Regions from separate parts of the Homo sapiens genome. Here all the other regions are linked to region 1. Evidence: fine-mapped expression QTL. A gene starts in region 1. Each other region holds a variant in brackets. All regions are shown on one strand. Distances are between the middles of the regions. Region 1 holds the start of SMURF2 (SMAD specific E3 ubiquitin protein ligase 2). Region 2 has its middle 10 kb from the start of MIR4315-2. Region 3 overlaps SMURF2 (SMAD specific E3 ubiquitin protein ligase 2).

What was found. PIP is the estimated chance that this variant, and not a neighbour inherited with it, causes the effect.
Region 2: its variant is fine-mapped to the expression of SMURF2 in whole blood (TOPMed, PIP above 0.99).
Region 3: its variant is fine-mapped to the expression of SMURF2 in whole blood (TOPMed, PIP above 0.99).

What each region holds. Positions count from the first base shown.
Region 1 is chr17:64,659,879-64,664,008 of GRCh38, forward strand. SMURF2 (SMAD specific E3 ubiquitin protein ligase 2) reads right to left here and starts at 2,429. Exons shown (of 19, transcript NM_022739.4): 1 at 1,951-2,429. The coding sequence starts at 2,002. RefSeq lists silencers at 1,923-2,122, 2,173-2,572 and an enhancer at 2,723-3,281.
Region 2 is chr17:64,809,991-64,814,120 of GRCh38, forward strand. It overlaps the pseudogene PLEKHM1P1. Among named protein-coding and RNA genes, the nearest start is that of MIR4315-2, 10 kb to the right of the region's middle. The variant A/G (reference allele first, on the strand shown) is at 1,862.
Region 3 is chr17:64,568,311-64,572,440 of GRCh38, forward strand. SMURF2 (SMAD specific E3 ubiquitin protein ligase 2) reads right to left here. Exons shown (of 19, transcript NM_022739.4): 10 at 3,488-3,646. Among named protein-coding and RNA genes, the nearest start is that of CEP95, 63 kb to the left of the region's middle. The variant C/T (reference allele first, on the strand shown) is at 2,244.

The sequences.
Region 1 (4,130 bases):
TTTTAAGAGAAAACTATTCAGAGACAAATAGTTGTAAGAAACTCAGAGTACCTCAAACTGTTTTTACTATTAAGAGGACACAGGGTATTTAAAATTCCTCAGAAAAACCTGAAACAAAATCACTATAAATGTAGTTCAATATTCCCCCTTCCCCTAAAATATAAGCATAATCTTTCCTCTTAATAAACTTTAATTATAAATTCTTATAATGTATCATAGGCAGTACGGAAACCACAGATAAACACTTTAAGATCTATTAAGTCATACTAAAAACCTCAACTAACCTTATCTGCAGAAAATCAAAAACCCAATTTTTTCCCTCATTTTCTCTACATAGCCCAGAGGAGGGTAAATGGAAACAGCCTATTTCTGATGCTTTCTGCACACCTGGGATCACATGTTCTTTCCACGATCACTGACTACAGACAGCAACAGCAACAGATAAACTCTAAAGCAACAAAGATCCCCTATAAAGGTTTCCACTGACTCCTCCCAATGTAAGGACACTGAATGAGGGGGGAGGGGGTGGAATACAAGTATCCTCCAATCCAGGTTTTCCATTAAGAATCACTCAGTTAATGATTCCCTGCAATTTTCCCTAGGGAAAGGAAAACTGCCATGAAAGTAATATATTATTTAAATTGCAGCCAACATACATTCAAGCTAAATTCTCAAATACCAAATTCACTGCAAGTTTTCATCCAGCAAGTTCAGCCAGTGGACTGGGATGTGACACACAGGCATTTAACTACAAAATTAGTCCAAATAAATCTCAAAGTCTAGTGTGGGCAAACATAATTACAGTTTATCCGTACACGTGCACGCACACACAAATCCTCTACGGAAAATTATCTTTCTCACCACTCACCCGAATACAAACGTGGACAATTTATCAGGGGTAAATGGTGAAGGTAGGATAACGCCGTGATTCCAATTCCTTTACAAACCAAATAAAAGTTCTCCTAAAACGGGGGTGGCATGTCCATGTAAGAATACCAAAAATGGCACTGTAAGCAAAACGTACCTGTAATGTTAAAGATTTCATGCACCTGGAATCATAAACACTTTGTAAGTGTAGTCTTCTATCTGGCAACCCCTCCGGACATTCTTTTCCATTTCGAAAAAGGAATGGGGAGGGTGGGGAGAGTAACAGAAAGTTTGCTCGAAAGTTTGTATGAGCACATACTTAGCAATGCACCCCCCCCAAAAAAGTGTGTTTTTAAAGCAGGTCTGGCGTTAGAAGTTAGACACAAGTTCTGCGGCCTAAAAGGAACAACCCCAAACATGCCACCCTACAATCAGACACTTCCAAAACACAGTGTACAATGAGCCCAAGCCGTCGGATCAGACAGGCACACCGGAAAAGTCAACCTGTCTCCTCACCTCAGAGACATGAGTTTAAGGTGTGTGGCCCGGGCAGCGGTGGCCGGCGGCGGGGAGTAAAGGTTTTTCATGCGGGCATAACTGGGTGTGTGCAAGGTAACAACCCGGGAACACACACGCACACCCTCCCGTTAAGCGCTCCATCTTTAAGGAGTGTTTACTGCGCGCAGTCAGCAACCGGATTCAATAATCCTCGCCACGGGAGCTCTTCATCCCCTTCACGATCTCACCTGGGCGGTAGCCCAGGGGCTGTTCCCCGAGCCCCGGGAGGCAGCGTCTGGCTCCTTGACCAAGACTTTCCGACCTGAAATCCGCCTGCGATGCGAACCGGTGTATTCTCCCCTCCACAAAACACCACCCCCCGCCCCGAGTCATCCTCGGCTTTTTAAACAATGTCCAAACCAGAGCAAGTGGTTTTCCAATTACTCTCCCTGAACTAGGCCTTCCCATTCCTCCGACCCCCAACTCATCATTGATCGCGACCCTGGCCCTTCCCAAGGCCACAGGCACCCCCCGCCAGCTCGCCCACCCCGCGGCTGCCCAGCCCGGCCCGCCGCCCCCCCTCACCTGTCAGGCGCAGCTTGACGGGCCCGTTCCTCCGGCCTCCGGGGTTAGACATGTCCCCGGCGGCGGGGGCGGCGGGGGCGGCGGGCGGCACGGGGGCGACGGCGAGGCGCGGCGGAGTCACCACAGCGGCCGGGGCTGGGGCCCGAGCAGCCGGCGCCTCGGCCGCCACGGCCGGAGGGTCCCGGATGTGCCGAGAGTCGTCGCCATGAGCCGCGGAGGGAGCGGGACGCCGAGCTCCCCCCTCCTCCCACTTCTCCTTCCTCGGCCCGGGCCGCACAACAAAGCGGCAGCCGCGGCCGCCCGCGCCGCCTCCGCCCGCGCCCCCGCCGCCTCCTCGCGGCCGCCGAGGCCTTTCCCTCCTCTCGTCTCGGCGAGGCCCAGTAGCCGACGGGGCTGGTCGGCTGAAGCGGGCGGTGCTCGGGGGCGCCGGAGCAGAACTCTGGGCTCGGCCGCTTCCTCCTCCACCCGCCCTCTTGTCTGAGGGACCCGGGACCTGGGGCCGCCGCCGCCACTCGTCGGCTCCGGGGGGCGGGGAGGAGACGGGAGGCGGGGCCGGCGGGGCGGGGCGGGGCCGGGGCGGGGCCGGCGGGCGCGCGCAGGGTGCCCTGGCGGGCACCGGCAGTCAGGGAGGGTGTGAGCTGCCGCCGAGGGTCCCACGCGGAACGCTGGGAGGGAGCAGGCAGGGAGCAAAGCGGCGGCGGGCGCGGCAGCTCTGTGGCACCTGGAGGGGTTTACTGTCCGGGCCACTTAAGGGAGAACTTTTGTCCAAGCAGGGCCAACTGCATTTTATTAGACGCCCACTGCGTGCAGGGCGCTCCGAGAGGCTGGGGCGAGGAAGGTTAGAACCGAGTCCGCTGCCTGCCGGGAACTTGGCGTCTTTCGGGCGAGGGAAGAGAAAGCATTCCCACGCCGATGGTTCCAGCAAAACCCCAGGAATGCTCTGCTCCTGGTCTTGTAGTTGACACCTCCATCCGGGACTCACCTGGTGGAGGAGATCAGGTTACCTGCCGACTCCCGCTCTTTTCAGGTGCAGCCAAGGATGGGGAGATGATACGTCTTAAAGGATTAACAAGATAAACCTTGGAGAGTAATGTATGAAGAGTTGTTCATACGCTACTGTATTTCGTTATCTCAGGAGGAGAAAGAGAAAAGTTTTTAAAAAATGTGTACCTTATCCTTTGACATTGTAACTGTACTGCTAGAAATTTATTTTTTATTTTTTTGTTTTTAGACAGGGTCTCCCTCTGTCGCCCAGGCTGGAGTGCAGTGGTGCGAACACGGCTCACTGCAGTCTCAACTTCCGGGGCTCAGGTGATCCTCCCACCTGAGCCTCTGGAGTAGCTGAGACCACAGTGTGCACCACTACGCCCCACTAATTTTTGTATTTTTAGTAGAGACATGTTTAGTAGAGACGTTTAGGTTTTCCCATGTTGCCCAGGCTGGTCACGAACTCCTGACCTCAAGCGATCAGCCCGCCTCGGCCTCCCAAAGTGCTGGGATTACAGACCTGAGCCACCGCACCGGCCCTATTCTTGACAAATAATCGTACAGAAGATGTTCTTTGCTATATTCCATTAATAACAAAAGGGGAATGAGGGAATAGCATAATAGTCCAGGAACCGCATGGTTTTTTATGCAGCCATGTAACTATTTTTATGAAGATCATATAATATGGAAGAATGTATATGTAATGCAAAGTTTAAAAACAGAATAGAAGTTGTATGCATATACATGCGAAAGTATCTAGCACAATGTAAACTACTAAGGACAATAGCGTGGGGGATTTTTTATGTGATTCGTTAGTTTTGCTTTAGGCTATTATAACATTAATGCAATTTTAAATGTTTTGGATTAATATATTTTAATCCTTATTCCATGCCAGTCATTTCTTTTAATACATCAGTGAACTCACTTCTCCAGATAGTTACCTGCGAGAACATTTCATCAGTTTGGATACAGCCCTACAATTAAAAGTAATCCAAAAAAGTATATGAAGTTCTAGACATCACACTAAAAATACCACAGATAGGCCGGGCACAGTGGCTCACGCCTGTAATTCCAACACTTTGGGAGGCCGAGGTGGGCGGATCATTTGAGGTCAGGAGTTTGAGACCAGCCTGGCCAACATGGTGAAACCCCGTCTGTACTAAAAAAAAATACAAAAAAATTAGCCGGGCCTG
Region 2 (4,130 bases), 150 kb after region 1:
CAGAGAGAGGGTGTGAGAGAGAGTGCACGCATGAACACCACTGTTTCTCTCTTCTCTCCTTTTTTTCTTTTAGAGATGGAGTCTTACTCTGTTGCCCAGGCTGGATCACAGTGGTGTGATCTCAGCTCACTGCAACATTTGCCTCCCAGTTTCAAGTGATTCTCCTGCCTCAGCCTCCTGAGTAGCTGGGATAACAGGCTCACGCCATCATGCCCGGCTAATTTTTGTATTTTTAGTACAGACGGGGTTTCACCATATTGTTCAGGCTGGTCTCAAACTCCCGACTTCAGGTGATCCACCTGCCTCAGCCTCCCAAAGTGCTGGGATTACAGGCGTGAGCCACCGCACCTGGACCCCTTCTCTCCTTTTTTCCCACCACCTTCCGACAACCTGCTCACTCAGGGTCCATGTCTGGCCAGCACCCTGCCCTTTAACAGTGGAGAGAAACCATCACCGACTAAGGATCTATACCAGAGCTGCAACTGCCACCAGGGACCCAAGACAGAGAAATGCCACCTTGCGTTACTAAAGGGCTCATGACACCATATACAACAGCTGAATCCCCAAGAGGAATGTGGCTGAGGAGTGAGACGAAGGTCTCTGGGACACTTTCAGAAGGATGAGACTTTGTCCAGCCAGTCCTCATTATGCCAGGCAAAGGAACTGCCTGTACTCATAACTGTGGAAGGGGAACCACATACCATGGGCAGGTGGTCCATGGGGGCAGTGATTAAGAGCAAGTCCTAGAACTCACACTGCCTTTTGGGAGTTAAACTGAAACCAACTCACAACCCCCAGATCCCAGACATGCGTCACCCTTGAGAGGCCCCTATTCCCTGCACCTCTCCTTCCCAGTGCTTAGCACAAGTGTAATTATGATGTGGATAATCATTTGTCTAATTTAATGTCTGTCCCCAAAGAGCCTTTGTCTGTCCTGTTGTATCACTCTACCCCTAGGACCTAACATGGTGCTTGGCTTATAGTAGGTGCTTTGGGTTCAATGAATTAAAAATAAATGTTTTTAAAAGAAAGACTGAATGGGCCTCTACACTATAAAACTTGACAGTGACCCCAACATCTCCCCCAAAATAACATCAAATAAAAAGCACGTGGCTAACTGATAGAAGTATAGAAAGATGAGGACCACAGGGGCAGATATGCAGGGCACAGCCTGGCACTGTCCACAGGCCAGGAGCCCAGCAGGCCCACATGAGCTGGCAGGCTATTCAGTGGCACCTGGTGACTACCTACTGAATAAGCAGTGAATGAATCCACAACTTCCCTGTGAGACAGACACAGGACGGGGGCAGGATCCGAGATTCTCACATCGGACTCAGCACCAAGCGCTTAGATGTCACATTCGCTAAGCAACCTTCCAGCAATCAGAGTCCCCTGTAGCTGGCACAGAGGCAGAGCCTGCCATGATCACACCAACCTGACCACCCTGTCCACTCGATGGTACACTTCGCTGACCCACTTTGGCCTCCCAAATTGCTAGGATTAGAGGCGTGAGCTATCACGCCTCGCCTGAACGTCCATAATCTTAAGTTTCACATTTGTCTCCTTCCTTCAAGTCCCCTTGACTTATCTTTGTTATTTTATATTAAAGACATTGGGATGGTCATGATTTATTCACACATCTTGTATGATTCTGGGCCAGGTACTTGCTGGAGATACCAAGAAAAAGAACCATTCCAAACAGCGTTATAGCTAGGATGGGGGAACAAAATAAACTTAGGAATTGGCATCTCAAGAGTCTCTTGGGAGTTCAAGAACTATTCATCCATGCCTACTTTCTCCCAGGTACAGTGCTTGGTGCTGACAATACAGAAGTGAACAGGCCTGGTGCTCTGTATCATAG[A/G]GCTAATATTCTAGTAAGGAAGACAGAAAATAAACAAGGAGACAAAGAGATAATATACTGTAATTGCACATAGTGATGAGTGTTATAAGCGAAGTCAAGCAGATGAATGGGACAGAGAGTCACTGGGGATGGTGCTTTTGAGCTACGGGGGTCCGGTCAGGGAAGGCTGAGACAACAATGAAGTGAGTCGGGAAAGAAGGAACAGCAAATGTAAAACCCTGAAGCTGGGCCGGGCACGGTGGCTCATGCCTGTAATCCCAGCACTTTGGGAGGCCAAAGTGGGCAGATCACTTGAGGCCAGGAGTTTGAGACCAGCCTGGTCAACATGGTGAAACCCCATAATTTTGTAAAAATACAAAAATTAGCTGGGCATGGTGGTAGGCATCTGTAATCCCAGCTACTTGGGAGGCTGAGGCATAAGAATAAGTTGAACTTAGGAGGCGGAGGTTTCAGTGAGCTGAGATTGCACCACTGTACTTCAGCCTGGGTGACAGAGTGAGACTCTGCCTCAAAAAAAAATTTTTTTTTCAAAGAAGCCTGATGTTGGAAGGAGTTCGCTTGGACTACAGAGCTGCAAGGAGGCCGGTGGGTCAGAGCTTAGTGAGCAAAGATGCTATTCTGTCCCACCAGCTTTGAGGCCCTGGCAAGATAAGATGCCTGAGCCTGCAAAGCAGAAGCTAGACCATGGGCAGGAGTGAACTCAACATGCTTAGTGCCACTCTGGAGTCCTGTGGGGCGCACAGCCTGCATCCCCAGCAGACGTCACTCTGCCTCCAGCTTGAGGAAGGGGCTGCAGAGCTTTCCTCTTCAGCCTTCAGCTTGAGTTGGCAGGTGCACAGTCACAACCTTCAGGGTCCTAGAGCATTCATTTTCAGGAAGTAAATCTTCAGGATGTACTGAAGCATCTTCAGGATAGCAAATTCGAAGACTCTGACCCACACTGACGGTTTTGTGATTTACATGGTCATATTCAAGAAACAGAGCGAGGCCAATCAGATATCCATATGGAAAAATATGAGGTTTGACTTCTAACACCACACATAAAAATTAATCCCAGAAAGATCATAAACCTAATTGTGAAAGATAAATCACTAAAGCTTCTAGAAGATAATATAGGCAAATACCTTCAGATCCTTGGGGGGAGATGAGTATCTCTTAAATGGGACAAAAACCAAGCAAACCATAAACAAAAAGACTGATAAACTGCACATCATTAAAAGAACCTCTGTTCAATAAAAATACCATTAGGAGGTTTAAAAGTCAAGCCCTATAGACTAGAAAAAGATACTTGATAAATATAGTTTTTGTCCAATGAAAGACTTATATCTGTAATATATAAAGAGTTCCTACAAATCAACACATACACATACAACTCAATTTAAGACCAGAATGACAACTTGGACAGACATTCTATAAAAGAGGATTGACTGGCCAATAAGCAAATGAAAAGGTATCATCATTTAGTCATCAAGGATATGAAAATTAAAACCACTACACATCTACCAGAGTGGCTAAAATTAAAAAGATTGGTAACACCATTGGCCAGGATAAAGAGCAACTAGAATGCTCATTTGTTGCCAATATGAGTATAAATTAGCACAAACACTTTAGAAAACTGTTTGGTGGTGGTATCTATTAAAGCTAAACATAAGCCACCCAAGGACCTAGCAATTCCATTCCCAGGTATATATACCCACAGAAATAAGCACCGAGTTTCTCCAAAAGCATGTATGAGAATGTTCACTACAGCTTTCTTCATAATAGTCAAAACCTGGAAACAACCCAAATGTCCATTAACGGGAGAATGGATAATAGGTTGCGATATATTTTTACAATGGAATACTGCAGAACAATGGAAAAGAATTAACTACAGCCTCATGCTATATGTACAGCCACACACCACCATGCCCAGCTAATTTTTGTATTTTTTGTACAGATGGGGTCTCACTTTGTTACCCAGGTTGGTCTCCAACTCCTGGGCTCAAGCAATCCTCCCTCTTGGTCTCCCAAAGCGCTGGGGTTACAGGTGTGAGCCACCATGCCCAGCCCCCAAATATTTTCATTTTAACTTGTAATCCATAAAAATGAGATTTTCTATTCTTTTATCATACTAAGTTATTGAAATCCAGCGCTTATTTCACATGGCACATCTCCATTTGGACTTGCCACATTTTAAGTGTACAACAGCCACACGTGGCTTGTAGCTGCCATATTGGACAGCACGGCTCTAAAACCTGGGTCATGTTGCAAAGTGAGTATGTTCAAGGCC
Region 3 (4,130 bases), 92 kb before region 1:
GGTTTACCAGCTTGTTTTGGGCCACACTGAAAGCCGTCCTGGGCCCAGCCTAAGGGCCGTGAGTTGGACAAGCTTGACCTAAAGGGATGATCCTGGAGGCAGGAGGTAAATAAAGCACAACCACCTCTTGGAGGCTTCCTGGGCCTCTCAGAGAGCCATACTGGCTCTTGATTACCATTGTACATTTGTCAAGTACTTTGGGTATGTTACATACTAAAGCAGCAAAAATAAATGGGATACACGTCTTCTTAAGTAATTCAAAGTCTAGTAGGGGAAGCAGAAAGGTAACAAACAATTAAGATACAAAAGTAAAACAAAAGCCCTCTGTAGAGTGCTCCAACATCTTTTATTCCTTATCATCTCCCCAAATTCCAATTTGCTGCCCCTATATGCCCTTTAAAAAAACCCAGGCCGGGCACAACGGCTCACACCTGTAATCCCAGCACTTTGGGAGGCTGAGGCAGGAGGATCACTTGAGGCCAAGAGTTGGAGACCAGCCTGGCTAACACGGTGAAACTTCGTCTCTACTAAAAATACAAAAATTAGCTGGGCGTGGTGGTGCGCGCCTGTAGTCCCAGCTACTCAGGAGGCTGAGGCAGGAGAATCGCTTGAACCCAAGAGGCAGAGGTTGCAGTGAGCTGAGATAGCACCACTGCACTCCAGCCTGGGCAACAAAGCAAGACTCCATCTCAAAAAAAATTCCAGAACTAGGCGTGGTGGCTCACACCTGTAATCCCAGCACTTTGGGAGGCCGAGGCGGGCAGATCACCTGAGGTGTCAAGAGCTCGAGACCAGTCTGGGCAACGCGGTGAAACCCCATCTCTACTAAAAATACAAAAATTAGCTCGGCGTGGTGGCAAGCACCTATAATCCCAGCTAACTTGGAAGGCTGAGGCAGGAGAATTGCTTGAACCCGGGATGTGGAGGTTGCAGTGAGCTGAGATCACGCCATTGTACTCCAGCCTGGGTGACAACAGGGAAACTCCATCTAAAAAAAAAAAAATCCATACACAAAAGTAAAGTCCACATGGATTAAAGACTTTACAGTAAAAGACAAAACTATAAATGTATTAAAAACATTTACTTGTAGTGTGAATTTTAGAAGATAAAGATTACATTAGAAAAATAGGCAAAAAAGATATAAATTAACAAAAAAAGTTGATGCAGCTGGTCAATAGGCCAAAAAAAAGCTGTTCAAGCTCAATAGACAATGGCAAAAAATTGTGAACAGGACCTTCACAAAAACAGGAAATCCAAATAGTCAATAAACCTATAAAAAGGTGCTCAACCTCATCAGTAATTAGGAAAATTCAAGTTAAAGTTACAATGGGAAACCATTAAACATCATCAGAACAGCAAAAATTTTGAAGTCCAACAACAGCAAGTACTGGCAAGCTTCTGCAGCAACAGGAACTCATATATTGCCGGTAAAAGACTAAACTGGCATAGCCACTTTAGAAAAGTTACCTTTATACATTAAAGTTGAAGATAGAAATATTCTACGACATAGCAATTCCACAACCAGGCAAGCGCCCTAGAGCAGTGTTACTCAAAGGGTAGACTGCAGATGACACTTATTTTGCTATCTAGGCTATAAAGACCCTAATGCACAGAAACAGTCCATACTTCTCTGTTTCTTCAGATACTTTTACATTAGGGCTTTCAAATACTTGCGACCTTCATTTGTAAGCAAGGTTTTAGAATCTTCTATCTACAATAAAGTAAGATCTGCTGACATAATGAGACTGCCAGGATAATTATACATATTTCGAAGAAGGAACCAAAGATACACATTTTCAATGTTTTCTCCTATTATCCTAAAAAACTGGTAGCCAGTTCTCATTTAAATTTTTTGCTTTATTAACCTAACTCCAAAAATTAATGAAACAAGGACATTTTCAGAAGTCATTTTAAAGTATATTATTATTTTTGTTGTGTTTTTAACATTTTAACATACATAAGAACTTTACAACAAATGAATAAGACAGAGCAGGTAATGTCACCATTCATTTAGAGAAGCTAAAATGAATTATTCAGGGGTCAGAGTGAACCTTGCTCTCCAAGTTCTTAGCCTAAAATCCTTGTTGCTATACCACTCTCAGTGTTTTTGCCAGAAGTGTTGAAAAAGACACTTTGCTACTTAGCTTAGTAATGAAGTTTTCCTGTTCTCTCTTTTCCTCCTCCTGCCCCCATTCTTCAGAAGGCAATGCTAATAAGTAACAGAGTTAGAAGAAATGAGGCAG[C/T]TAGAGAGAAAAGAAAAGCAAAGGATGCAAATAATATACACACAATACTCAGTATAGTGCCTCACAGGCAGCTGAAGCCAGAGCATCCTGGTTTCACTCCAGACTTCACCACTGGCAACGTATGGAAAGTCATGTAACCTCTATACCTCAGTTTCCTCATCTGTAAAAATGGCAGTAGCTAACTCACAGAGTTTTTCTGAGGATGAAATTACGAACTTGGGGTGTTTTTGTTTGTTTGCTTTTTAAAGACAAGAGTCTCACTCTGTTGCCCAAGCTAGAATGAGTGGCGCGATCACAGCTCACTGCAGCCACGACCTCCTGAGCTCAAGAGATCCTCCCACCTCGGTGTCCTGAGTAGCTGGGACCACAGGTGCGCACCACCATGACCAGCTAATTTTAAAAAAATTTTTTGAAGAGAATAGGACTCACATGTTGGCCAGGTTGGTCTTGAACTCCTAGGCTCAAGTGATTCTCCAACCTCAGCCTCCCAAAGTGCTGGGATTACAGCATGAGCCACATGCCTGGCCTTACCAACATATGTAAAGTATAAAGAACAATGCTTGTCACACAGTAAGTGCTACTAAGGTGTTAGCCATTAATATAAATTATTAATAATTTTGTATTACAATGGCAACACAAAATTAGCCTGTTCAACCCCTACTTCTCCTGTCAAGATATTGCCTCTGTAAAAGGCCATCTTGAGCACCTCTAATAACCCTTTTCCTAACATTCCAAGACAGGTTCCTACCTAAAAGCATAGTAGGTTTAAAATACTCATATCAGAGTAAACCTTGTCACACTCTTACATAAATTTTGCTCAATAAAAGTAAATTATAACTGATGAAAGTAGATGTTCTTTCATTTTTTAAGAGACAGGGTCTCCATCTGTCACCCAGGCTGGAGTTGGGGTGGTGTGATCATAGTCCACTGCAGCCTCAAACTCCTGGGCTCAGGCGATTCTCCTGCCTCAGTTTCCCAAGTAGCTAGGACTGCAGGCATACACCACCACACCCAGCTAATTTTTTAATTTAAACAACTTTTTTTTTGTAGAGATGAGGTCTCACTATATTGACCAGGCTAGTCTCAAACCCCTGGCCTCAAGTGATCCTGCTGCCACGGCCTCCCAAAGCACTGGGATTAAAGGCGTGAGCCACTGTATCGAGACTCACATTTATTATTAAAAGCATCTATGCGTTTCATCATGTTTAACTCCCATTTTAACATGTATTGTTTCAAAAACTTACTTTAAAACTAAATGCAAGTTAGCAGACAGCCGAGGATCTGTAAATTGTGTTGTTCTGTTGTTATGGTCAACGAAATAAACTCTGCCTGTTGCCGTATTACGGATCTCCCATCCAGGAGGCAATGGACCAAGCTCTTCACAATTGATGTTGCTAAGATCCCTGCAAAAACAAATATAAAATAAAAAATACCTCATTGCTCGCCCTGCTGAACCAAGCAAGTGTAAATGACACAGAACAATTCCACAAAGTGTGAGAAAATGTATTGTTTCAGAAACTTGAGATGTTCAGCTGGAATCTTTAATTCCCAATGGTTTAACAAACTTTCATCTTCAAAGCCCAATCCATAAATGGCTCAGAAAAACTTATCACATAGCCTACATTTTTTAGTAATTTCCTAGGCTTTAATGTAATACAGATTTAAATTAATATAAAATCAATCCCAATATTTGCCAACATAAACTGTATTTCAACACGTGTTTGACAGGAAGTAATTTTACAAGTGTCAGTGACATAAAGAATTAAATGCTTTCTAAAATGTCCCTTCATTTCTTTACTATACCATAAAATTTGCATAAAATGTCCATTCCATAATTTTAAGCTCGCCAACAAAGCAAAACTGGAAATGTTACTGAAATTATGATCC